Regions from separate parts of the Homo sapiens genome. Here region 2 is linked to region 1. Evidence: fine-mapped expression QTL. A gene starts in region 1. The other region holds a variant in brackets. All regions are shown on one strand. Distances are from middle to middle. Region 1 holds the start of SNRPE (small nuclear ribonucleoprotein polypeptide E). Region 2 overlaps ATP2B4 (ATPase plasma membrane Ca2+ transporting 4).

Region 1 (5,377 bases):
TTTGGTAGAGCCAAGGTCTCATTATGTTGCTCAGGCTGGTCTTGAACTCCTGGGTTCGAGCAAGCCTCCTGCTTCTGCTTCTCAAAATGCTGGGATTACAGGCATGAGCTCGCGCACCTGGCTGAAATTTTTTTTTTTTTTTCTTTGAGACAGAGTCTTGCTCTGTCACCCAGGCTGGAGTGCAGTGGCGCGATCTCGGCTCACTGCAACCTCTGCCTCCCAGATTCAAGCAATTCTCCTGCCTCAGCCTCCTGAGTAGATGGGACTACAGGCGCCTACCACTACGCCCAGCTAATTTTTGTATTTTTAATAGAGACGGGGTTTCACCATATTGGCCAGGCTGGTCTCAAACTCCTGACCTTGTGATCTGCCTGCCTCAGCCTCCCAAAGTGCTGGGATTTACAGGCATGAGCCACTGTGCCCAGCCCTGGCTGAAATTTTTTAAAGGAAATAGTTATCCCATGCATTTGCCAGCTTTGTGTAGTTTATTTATTTATTTATTCTTATTTATTTTTTTGAGACGGAGTCTCGCTCCGTCACCAAGGCTGGAGTGCAGTGGCATGATCTCGGCTCACTGCAACCTCTGCCTCCTGGGTTCAAGTGATTCTCCTGTCTCAGTCTCCCAAGTAGCTGGGATTACAGGCATGTGCTACCATGCATGGCTAATTTTTGTATTTTTAGTAGAGACAAGGTTTCACCATGTTGCCCAGGCTGGTCTCGAACTCCTGACCTCAGTTGATCCACCTGCCTCGGCCTCCCAAAATGCTGGGATTACAGGCGTGAGCCTGGCCGCTTTGTGTAGTTTAAAAATCACTTTCAACTCAACCCCTTTCTGAAGTCGTTATTACTATTATCCCCATTAAACAGAAGCCCTCAGAAAAGCTAATTTTGATTCTGCCATTTGCCCTAATCCGTGTTCCCTTAGGCAAGTCCTTTCAAAAGTCTAAACTTCAGTTTCCTCCTCTATAACATGTGTATGCCAATTAAGTGAAATCTCTGCCAGGCCACAAGCCATGACACAATGGAAAGGTAGGTGGACTTTGGGGTCAGGCACACCTACAAATTCCAGCTGCTCCACTTAGTAGCTGTGTTATCCAGGGAAGGACATGTTCTGACACTGGCTGACGCCTAACTGTGTGCACACATAGACAATTATTTCATTGAATCTTTAAGCCCCTGAGTAAAGTTAATCTTTACTATAATCTCCGTTTTGGAAACTAAGCCAAGACATGGCGAGGCTGAGTAATTTATCCTTGGTCACCAACTCTAAAAGAGCTGGATTTGCGCCCAGCATGTGGATTTCAGCGTCTTCCTGGTAAATCGCCACCCTCAGTTGCCACCTGAACAGTAACTCTCCACGAAATGGATGAGAATTGAATCCGTAACTGGAGGGAACCAGGCGTCTGGCTTTGGAATGCAGACCGCCTCTGGCCGACTGCCAGAGGTGGGAGGCCTGAAGTTTGGGCTCCTTGCCGCCCTACCCTTTCCACCACAACGCTGCTATCAAGCCTAAACTCCAGCAAAATAGGCTTTAGGAAAGGCACGAAATTAACTCATTTTACACATAGAGATACACACTGGGACGATTTTGGCTTTTCAAGCTAACTCAGAAAATGGAGATACAGGCCGGGCGCGGTGGCTTACGCCTGTAATCCCAGCACTTTGGGAGGCCGAGGCGGGCGGATCATGAGGTCAGGAGATCGAGACCATCCTGGCCAACATGGTGAAACCCCGTCTCTACTAAAAACACAAAAAATTAGTCGGACGTGGTGGCAGGCGCCTGTAGTCCCAGCTACTCGGGAGGCTGAGGCAGGAGAATCGCTTGAACCCTGGAGGCTGAGGTTGCAGTGAGCTGAAATCGCGCCACTGCACTCCAGCCTGGGCGACAGAGCGAGACTTCGCCTCAAAAAAAAAAAAAGAAAAGAAATTGGAGACAGGACGGCACTCCTCCTACCACGGCCACTATACAACCGAAGGCACCTCCTCCCGCCTCCCTCCAGGTGGCGCTGTAGGACCGGCCCACCTTCCACAGCGCAGACGCCTCAGTTTGGCCTCCCTCGGAGGCCATGCAGCGAAGAAACGTGACTTCATGGCTAGAGGGGCATTTCCCAGGAGCCGCCCATGCCGCCGCGTGACCTTCACACTTCCGCTTCCGGTTCTTTATTCCGGAAGTTGCTCTCAGAGGCAGCGTGCGGGTGTGCTCTTTGTGAAATTCCACCATGGCGTACCGTGGCCAGGGTCAGAAAGTGCAGAAGGTTATGGTGCAGCCCATCGTATCCTACGCAGGATGTCAGGACTAGGAGGTTCGGGTCAGAATACGGGGTGCGAAGGCGCAGGCTGAGGGCAGGCCTGGGATAGTGGAGTACGGATCCACATCCCATGAGCCCCCGGGGCTACCAAGACTGGAAGAAAGCGCGGGTAGTTGAACCGTGATGGTGGGGAGGTGGTCTTGGGGGGACCCCTGCCGTGGGGAATGCAGGAATGGACGCGGCAAAAGGAGGGAAGAGAACTTCAGGTGCGGAGTGAAAACGGGAGTTAACGGTTTTGGGAAACTCCAGGGGGATGAAAGTGGAATGGATGTTCTTTAGTCTTTAGAAGACCCGTAACGAATGCCCAGCTGGGCACTTGTTGTTTGCGTAAGCACCAGACCTCGCGTTTAGTAAACAAAGGTGAGACGGGAATAGCGTCGTCCGGTTGTTTCAGGAAGCAGAGTCTATGCTGCTTTTGTATTTTTTCCTTAGCCACTGTGGTGCAGAACCTCATCTTCAGATACTTACAAAATGTACGTAAGTTGCTTGTTTCGTAACTACTTTTTAAATAAGAGGTGAACTGATTTAGTTTTTTGTGTTAACCTGAGCGATCGCTGTGTTCTAGAATTTAAAAATAGATGTAACTGGAGATTGGAGGGTAATTGAGGGGAAGGAGTACTTAGAAAGCACTAATGTGATGAAGTGGTGTGTATCCATGCCACTTCCCAACATGCAAAGAATTGTATCCATTACTTTGCAAGATCAAAAATACTTTTTAATTCCAAAAAGTATTATTAGCAGACTTGACCATGGTATTTGGGCATCAGTAGTTTTGTTAGTAGTGATTATGGCTAGAACATTGGAACCTCTCCCCTTTAGGATGAAACATTGGAAGAAAAACCCAGCCAACTTAAACCATGTCAAGAGGTGGTGTGTTTAATACCTGTGGGAAAACTTAAAGACGAAAAAAGGAAGAGAGAAGGGGTAGCTTCAGAGGAGTTTAGTGGCAGCTGCTTTCCTTTGAGGGAAATTTTAGCAACTTAAATTTTATAGTGTGATAACACAACTGAAAAACATTAATTTCAGGTGATAATAATTCTTAACCACCTGAATTGAGGGCTCCTGTCCTAGTTGTTAGGTGTGTGACATGAGAAGGCTTTGTTTTGGAACTGGATTTTGCTGCAGGAGATAAGCCCTTGGTCATTAGAAATTACTGCTTTGTGCTATGCTGTCAAAAACTTTCACTCTTAATAGATTGAGACCAGAAGCAGTAAGAAATATTGAGTCCCAAAATCACAGGAAAATTATTAGCTTATACAGTTCCAATATAGAACTTATTAAATGAAAATTCTTTTTGAGGTTATTATTATTGGTGAATAATTCTTAGATATGGGCTAATTAGTTAAAACTTTTGACTTACATTCATTACAATTTTTTTAGGAGCCATATTTCTCTTGTCGTTTGACCAAAATGGTTAGGTTTTGTATACTTCAATTTTTTGGGGGGCGGGGGGCGGGGAGATCTTGCTTAATGTTGCGCAGGCTTATATTGAACACCTGGCCACAAAGCGAATTATTCCGCTTTGGCATCCCAAAGTATGGGAACGGTGTGAATCGAGGCACCTGGCCTGTTTTTCTTTTCTTTTTTTTGAGACGGAGTCTCACTGTGCCCAGGCTGGAGTGCAGTGGCGCGATCTCAGCTCACTGCAACCTCTGCCTCCCGGGTTCAAGCGATTCTCCTGCTTCAGCGTCCCGAGTAGCTGGGACTACAGGCGTGCGCCACCACGCCCAGCTAATTTTTTTTGTATTTTTAGTAGAGATGGGGTTTCACCATGTTAACGAGGATGGTCTCTATCTCTTGACCTTGTGATCCACCTCCCTCGGCCTCCGAAAGTGCTGGGATTACAGGCGTGAGCCACCGCGCCCGGCCCTATTTTTCTTTTTTTAACGTTTCCACTTTTATGATTATTTCAGAGATCGCGGATTCAGGTGTGGCTCTATGAGCAAGTGAATATGCGGATAGAAGGCTGTATCATTGTGAGTATCCAGGCGATTTCATCTCATAGCAGTTCGGTCGTAGAAAAAGACTTAACAGAAAGTGTCTAGCCAGAACAGTGTATAAAAAGTCAAAGATCCAACCTAAGGAAAGTTTTTCAGGTGCTGCTGTTTAGCCTTTTTTCATTGTTGATAGATAAGGATTGGGTAGTTTTTAATAGGGAAAATAACTTTTAATTCATTTTCTTTCCTCTGTCTATGTTGAGAAGAAAATTTGTATTTGATTTTTGAGAAAGGGCTTTGTTCTGTTGCTTAGGCTGGAGTGCAGTGGCACAATCATGGCTCGTTGCAGCCTCAACCTCCCGGGCTCAAGTAGTCCTCCTGCCTCAGCCTCCCAAGTAGCTAGGATCAGAAGCGTGCACCATCACAGCCTGCTAAATTTTTATTTTTTATAGAGATGAGGTCTCACTGTGTTGCCCAGGCTGGTCTCAAACTCCTAGGCTCAAGTGATTCTCCCACCTCAGCCTCTCAAAGTCTTGGGATTACAGGCATGAGCCACAACGCCTGGCTGAAAATTAACTTTTAAAAATTATTCGAAAAAAAAATATTGAGCGACAATGTTAGTATGGAGAGGGGGGACAAAATAAATGAAATTAGGGAGGGTGGGGTTATTTGTTGTGGGTTAGGTGATACCTGAATAGAGAGCTCAGTGGGGTTAGTTAAATAAGGCTTCTGGGATAGCAGGCTACCCTAAATTTTTTTTTTTAAGTTGGGGTCCGGCTCTGTCACCCAGGTGCTCTCAGCTCACTGCAATCTTGAACTCCTTGGCTCAAGTGATTTTTCCACCTCAGCCTCTAGTAGCTGGGAACTATAGGCATACACCACCAGGTCCAGCTAATTTTTAAATATTTTGCTGGGCAAGGTGGCTCACGCCTGTAATCCTAGCACTTAGGGAGGCCGAGCATGATGAATCACTTTAGCTCCAGAGTTCGAGACCAGCCTGGGCAACATGATGAAACCCTGTTTCTACCAAAAATACAAAAAGTAGCCAGGCATGGTGGTGCGCCCTGTAGTTCCAGCTACTTGGGGGGAGCTGAGGCAGAAGAATTGCTTGAACCCAGGAGGTCCAGCTGC
Region 2 (5,377 bases), 200 kb before region 1:
GTAAAAAAAAAGAGGCCAGGCACGGTGGCTCACGTCTGTAATCCCAGCACTTTGGGAGGCCAAGGCAGGCGGATCACCTGAGATCAAGAGTTGGAGACCAGCCTGGCCAACATGGAGAAACCCTGTCTCTGCTAAAAATACAAAAATTAACCAGGTGTGGTGGTGCGTTCCTGTAATGCCAGCTACTTGGAAGGCTGAGGCAGGAGAATTGCTTGAACCTGGGAGGTGGAGGTTGCAGTGAGCTCAGATCATGTCAGTGCACTCCAGCCTGGGCAACATAGCAAGACTCCATCTCAAATAATAATAATAATAATAAATAAAATAAGAAACAAAAGGAAGAAAAGGAAAAAATGCTGTCAAATAGCATCATATGTTATAGAGAAGTCTCACTAAAAAGTCAATCAATGCAGCAAACTTTATTGTTGTCTTATTTGAAGAAATTGTCACAGCTACCCCACCCATCAGCAAGCAGCCATCCACATTGAGAAAAGACCTCTCCACCAGCAAAAAGATTACCACTTCCTGAAGGCTCAGATGATCATTAGCGTTGTGTTTTGTTTTGTTTTGTTTCTGAGACGGAGTCTTGCTCTGTTGCCCAGGCTGGAGTGCAACGGTGCGATCTCGGCTCACTGCAACCTTCGCCTCCTGGGTTCAAGCGATTCTCTCAACTCAGCCTCCCGAGTAGCTGGGATTACATGTGCCACCACGCCCAGCTATTTTTTTTTTTTTTTGGTGATTATAGATTAATATAATATACAGCCATCCTTAAAGCCACAACATATCACAGATCACAAAAGTGCTTTCACCAAGTTACAACCCTAACACCTTACTTTTTTATGTCATCTAACTGCAAATAAGTTTCTCCTCAGAGAATCAGTGCAGTCTTCTTTATCCTTTTAAAACTTAGCTGGAGCTGCTTAAACTAATTCTTAATACCATTCTGAAACTAGAAATATACTGTTTAGAACACAGAAATGCTAAGAAAGTACAAAGACTTTAGTATTTTTTTTCATTTTCATGATTCAAGTAGAAAACAGTGCCAAGTAGGTATTATTCTACATGGTAAATGGAAGAAAAAAATGTTTAGAATGTGAATTCACTAGACCTTTGCGGTATTCAGAAGTTAAGGATTTCACAGGTGAAAAGATTTCTCTAAGAGTTCTGAACTTTGCGTCTTCTCACATACTTTTAGTGTAAACACTGTAAACTTAACATCTGTATTAATGCTGTCTTTTTAGGATTAATGAATAACGAGGTAGAAGATACTTCATTTAAATTCTCAGACACATAATTAAGTGTGTATTAACCTTTTTGAAAGGCATTTTCAACGGAACTGGTGGTTTTTCAGGAAATTGCTGAATACCCACGCATAAATGCAGATATTGATGAAGTAGGATATTTGTATATTTGCTTTTTTTCAATCATTCAATTTTATGAACATGGGGTCTAAGCAGATTTCAAAACAAAGACCATTTATAAAACTGGACCATTTTAATGTTTACAATGTAATAAATCTCTTGATTGCAGACATATATGGCTGTTTGGTAGAAACATTACAGTAATGGCAGTTTTTTCAGTTGGTGTGTAGTCCCCAATAATTATATATGAAATTGCTGTCAAACCAGTAAGACTGCATTTATGCAGCCATCATTTTCAGGACTGTTGGTAACCTGAGCATATTTTCTCCAAATAACTTTGCCTCCTTGTGTCACAAGGCCCAATTCGCTCACATTTACCTCAATGACAATATCTTTGGTAATAACACCCACAGTTGTATACGGTGGGGATGAGGGATTCTTCTTTACACCAAGTATTGGTGGGCAAAAGGTGGCTTTCAGTTCAAGATGTAATACATGGGCTTTCTTGAAATGCATATTGGCCTGATCAGTCTTTCTTATTTAGGTGGTTTTCTTGTAAAGCCATCTCCGACAAAGCAGAGTTTAGTAACCACCCTCTTCCATGCCTTCTTCTTTCTCTTTCCTGTTCAAACAACTTTTAATACGTCTGTTTCTCCCTGGGCATGTACTTTAGTCAGAGGGACTTCCCGTTTTCCCACCTTCTCTTTTCATTTCTGTTTAATCATATTGGAAAGTACTTTGGCTCGAGATTGTCCCTCTCTGTCCAGCAGATAAGCAGGTACTGCTCCCTGTGGAGTCTTTTCATCCTTCTTTTGTTTGGTGTTTCTCTTTTCATGCATCTTGATAGTCTTTTTCATTTGTATTTTCTCAGCATGACACTGTTTAAGGTAAAGCTTAGCCTTCAGACCAATCATTTGCTTTGCCTTCTTTGAACGTTCATGAGCCTCTCGTTCATAAGCCTCTCAGCTTTCCTTCTTTCTTTTCTTCTCATGGTAATCCAAACGGTATCCATAGTGTTTATGGTGTAATTCAATATATTCGTTCTGTGGCATGGTGACAGGCGCAGAACCACCAGGAGTAGCCCCTGAGGTGCGAAAACACTCTCAATTTTAAGGTCTCAGAGACTCCACGCAGGCCGGGACAGGAAAGGGTCACCCTTTTTTAAAAATATTTGTAGTAGAGACAGGGTTTCACCATGTTGGCCAGGCTGGCCTTGAACTCCTGACCGCAAGTGATCCGCCCCCCTCAACCTCCCAAAGTGCTAGGATTACAGGCGTGAACCACGGCCGATCATTAGCATTTTTAACACAAAATATATTTTAATTAAGGTAGTCACATTGTGTTTTTTAACCATAAAAACACTTAATAGACTATAGTATTGTGTACACATAACTTTTATATGCACTGAGAAACCAAAA[C/A]AATAATAAATAACCAGGAACTTGCCTTATTGCAGTGGTCTGGAATCGTACCTGCAATGTCTCCAAGGTATGCCTGTACTAAAAGGAAAGTCTAAGATTCAAGAAGGGATGATGGACTGAGCACTGTGGCTCATGCCTTATAGTCCTAGCACTCTGGAAAACCAAGATGAAAGGATCTTTTGAGCTCAGGAGTTCAAGAACAGCCTGGGCAAAATAGAGAAACCTCATCTCTAATAAAAATTAAAAAAAAAAAAAAAAGCCTGGCATGATGATGCAGGCCTGTAGTCCCAGCTACTTGGGAGACTGAGGTGGGAGGATCACTTGAGCCCAGGAGATTCAGTCCGCAGTGAGCTATGATGGCGCCACTGCACTCCACCCTGGCCAACAGAGGGAGACCCTGTCTCAAAAAAAAAAGAAAAAAAGAAAAAGAAACGAAGACGGGATGATGAGCAAATAAAATGGTAAACATGGAGTGAAATCTAAATATTGATGTCAAAGACAAGAAATATCAGAAATATAACAATGTCTAATTGATAGGAATAAAATGAAGATATAATTTAAATCCTCAGTAACTATAGTATATAAATTGGAAGGTAAGGCCAGGCATGGTGGCCCATGCCTGTAATCCCAACACTTTGGGAGGCTGAGGCGGGTGGATCACAAGGTCAGGAGATCGAGACCAGCCTGGCCAACATGGTGAAACCCCGTCTCTACTAAAAATACAAAAATTAGCTGGGCGTGGTGGTGTGTGCCTGTAATCCCAGCTACTGAGGAGGCTGAGGCAGGAGAATTGCTTGAACCCAGGAGGTGGAGGTTGCAGTGAGCCGAGATCGCGCCACTGCACTCCAGCCTGGGTGACAAAGTGAGACTGCGTCTGAAAAAAAAAAAATTAGAAGGTGAATATAGTAATTGGAGTTTAAGTGTTCTAAGGTCCTTATATTTTCTAGGGAAAAAATTAAAGATATTGCTTATTAGAAGTCTTTATGTTAAGATTTCTAGGCTAATACTAAAAAACTTGGTATAATATAACTTCCAAACTAGCAGAGGGGAAGAAAAATGAAAAGGAAACACAAATGAAAATGATAGAAAATGTGTCAGTTAAAAAAAAATTTATGGTTGTGATATCGAAGAAAATAATAAAGATTACCATTTCTTGAGTAGCTCTTGTATTAATCACTTTGAATCATTAATCTTTATAATTTCATGTAATATATGTCAGAATGACAAGCCCAAAGCAGGTATTTAAAAATTATAGTTTCTGGCCAGGTGCAGTGGCTCACACCCATAATCCCAGCACTTTGGGAGGCAGAGGTGGGAGGATCACTTGAGCCCAGGAGTTTGAGACCAGCCGAGACCACACAGCAAAACGTTGTCTCTACAAAAACATTTGAAAATTAGCCAGGCATGGTGGCACACCCCTGTAGTCCACAAAGGAGGCTGAGGTGGGAGGATCACTTGAGCCCAGAGGCTGAGGCTTCAGTGAGTTCTGATCATGCCACTGCATTCCAGCCTGAGTAACAGAGCAAGACCCTGTCTCAAAAAATAAAAATAAAAATTAGCTAGGCATGTGGGGGAAGCCTGTAGTTCTAGCTACTGGGGAGGCTGAAGCGGGAAGATTGCTCCATCCAGCCTGGTTGGCAGGGTGAGACCCTGTTGCTAAAAAAAATATATAAAAAGCTGGGTGTGGTGGCTCACGCCTGTAATTCCAGCACTTTGGGAGGCCAAGGCAGGTGGATCACAAGATCAGGAGTTCAAGATCAGCCTGGCCAAAATGGTGAAATCCTGTCTCTACTAAAAACACAAAAATTAGCCGGGCGTGGTGGCAGGTGCCTGTAATCTCAGCTACTCGGGAGGCTGAGGCAGGAGAATCGCTTGAACCTGGGAGCTGGAGGTTGCAGTGAGCCAAGATTGTGCCACTGCACTCCAGCCTGGGCGGCAGAGCAAGACTCCATCTCAAAAAAAAAAAAAAAAAAAGAAAGAAAGAAAGAAAGAAACTTGTCCAAGGTCACAGAGCTTGGATTCCAATCCAAGTATTTGAAATTCAACCCAAGCTACTTTTCCCTTTACCATGTGGTAGATTTTTTCTCTCTAATGCCAAAACATCATGTAACAGCCAAGACCATGAGTTTTTTGGACCTGGGTTTATGGTCCAGTTTCACCACAAGTTAACTGCAGAGCTTTAGGCCTCAGTTCCTTCAGTTGTTGAAAGAGGATAAAAATAGCTATCACAAAAGGTAGTAGGTTGGAAGATCGTGAGAATGCACGCCATTGGGGTGAGAATGTATCACTTGGGGTGGTGGAGATAAAAAATGAGGTCCCAGTTCAATGTAACAGCCGATGAATAGGCTCCTAGGGAGCAGTAAGAAGAGAACGGAGGTGGGGGGTGGGGGGAGGCCTGGGCACAGTGGCTCACGCCTGTAATTCCAGCACTTTGGGAGACCGAGGTGGGCAGATCGTGAGGTCAAGAGATCGAGACCAGCCTGGCCAACATGGTGAAACCCCATCTCTGCTGAAAATACAAAAATTAGCTGGGCATGGTGTGAGCACCTGTAATCCCAGCTACTTGGGAGGCTGAGGCAGGAGAATTGCTTGAACCTGGGA

What was found. PIP is the estimated chance that this variant, and not a neighbour inherited with it, causes the effect. A credible set is the group of variants that fine-mapping cannot tell apart.
Region 2: its variant is the best candidate, but not a certain one, in a credible set for the expression of SNRPE in caudate (GTEx, PIP 0.51).

Annotation. Positions count from the first base shown.
Region 1 is chr1:203,859,441-203,864,817 of GRCh38, forward strand. It overlaps SNRPE (small nuclear ribonucleoprotein polypeptide E), which reads left to right and starts at 2,159. Exons shown (of 5, transcript NM_003094.4): 1 at 2,159-2,273; 2 at 2,756-2,782; 3 at 4,223-4,285. The coding sequence starts at 2,220. RefSeq lists enhancers at 1,941-2,235, 2,044-2,303, 2,689-3,264.
Region 2 is chr1:203,655,351-203,660,727 of GRCh38, forward strand. All of the region lies in intron 1 of ATP2B4 (ATPase plasma membrane Ca2+ transporting 4), which reads left to right. It also overlaps the pseudogene NSA2P1. Among named protein-coding and RNA genes, the nearest start is that of ATP2B4, 31 kb to the left of the region's middle. The variant C/A (reference allele first, on the strand shown) is at 2,777.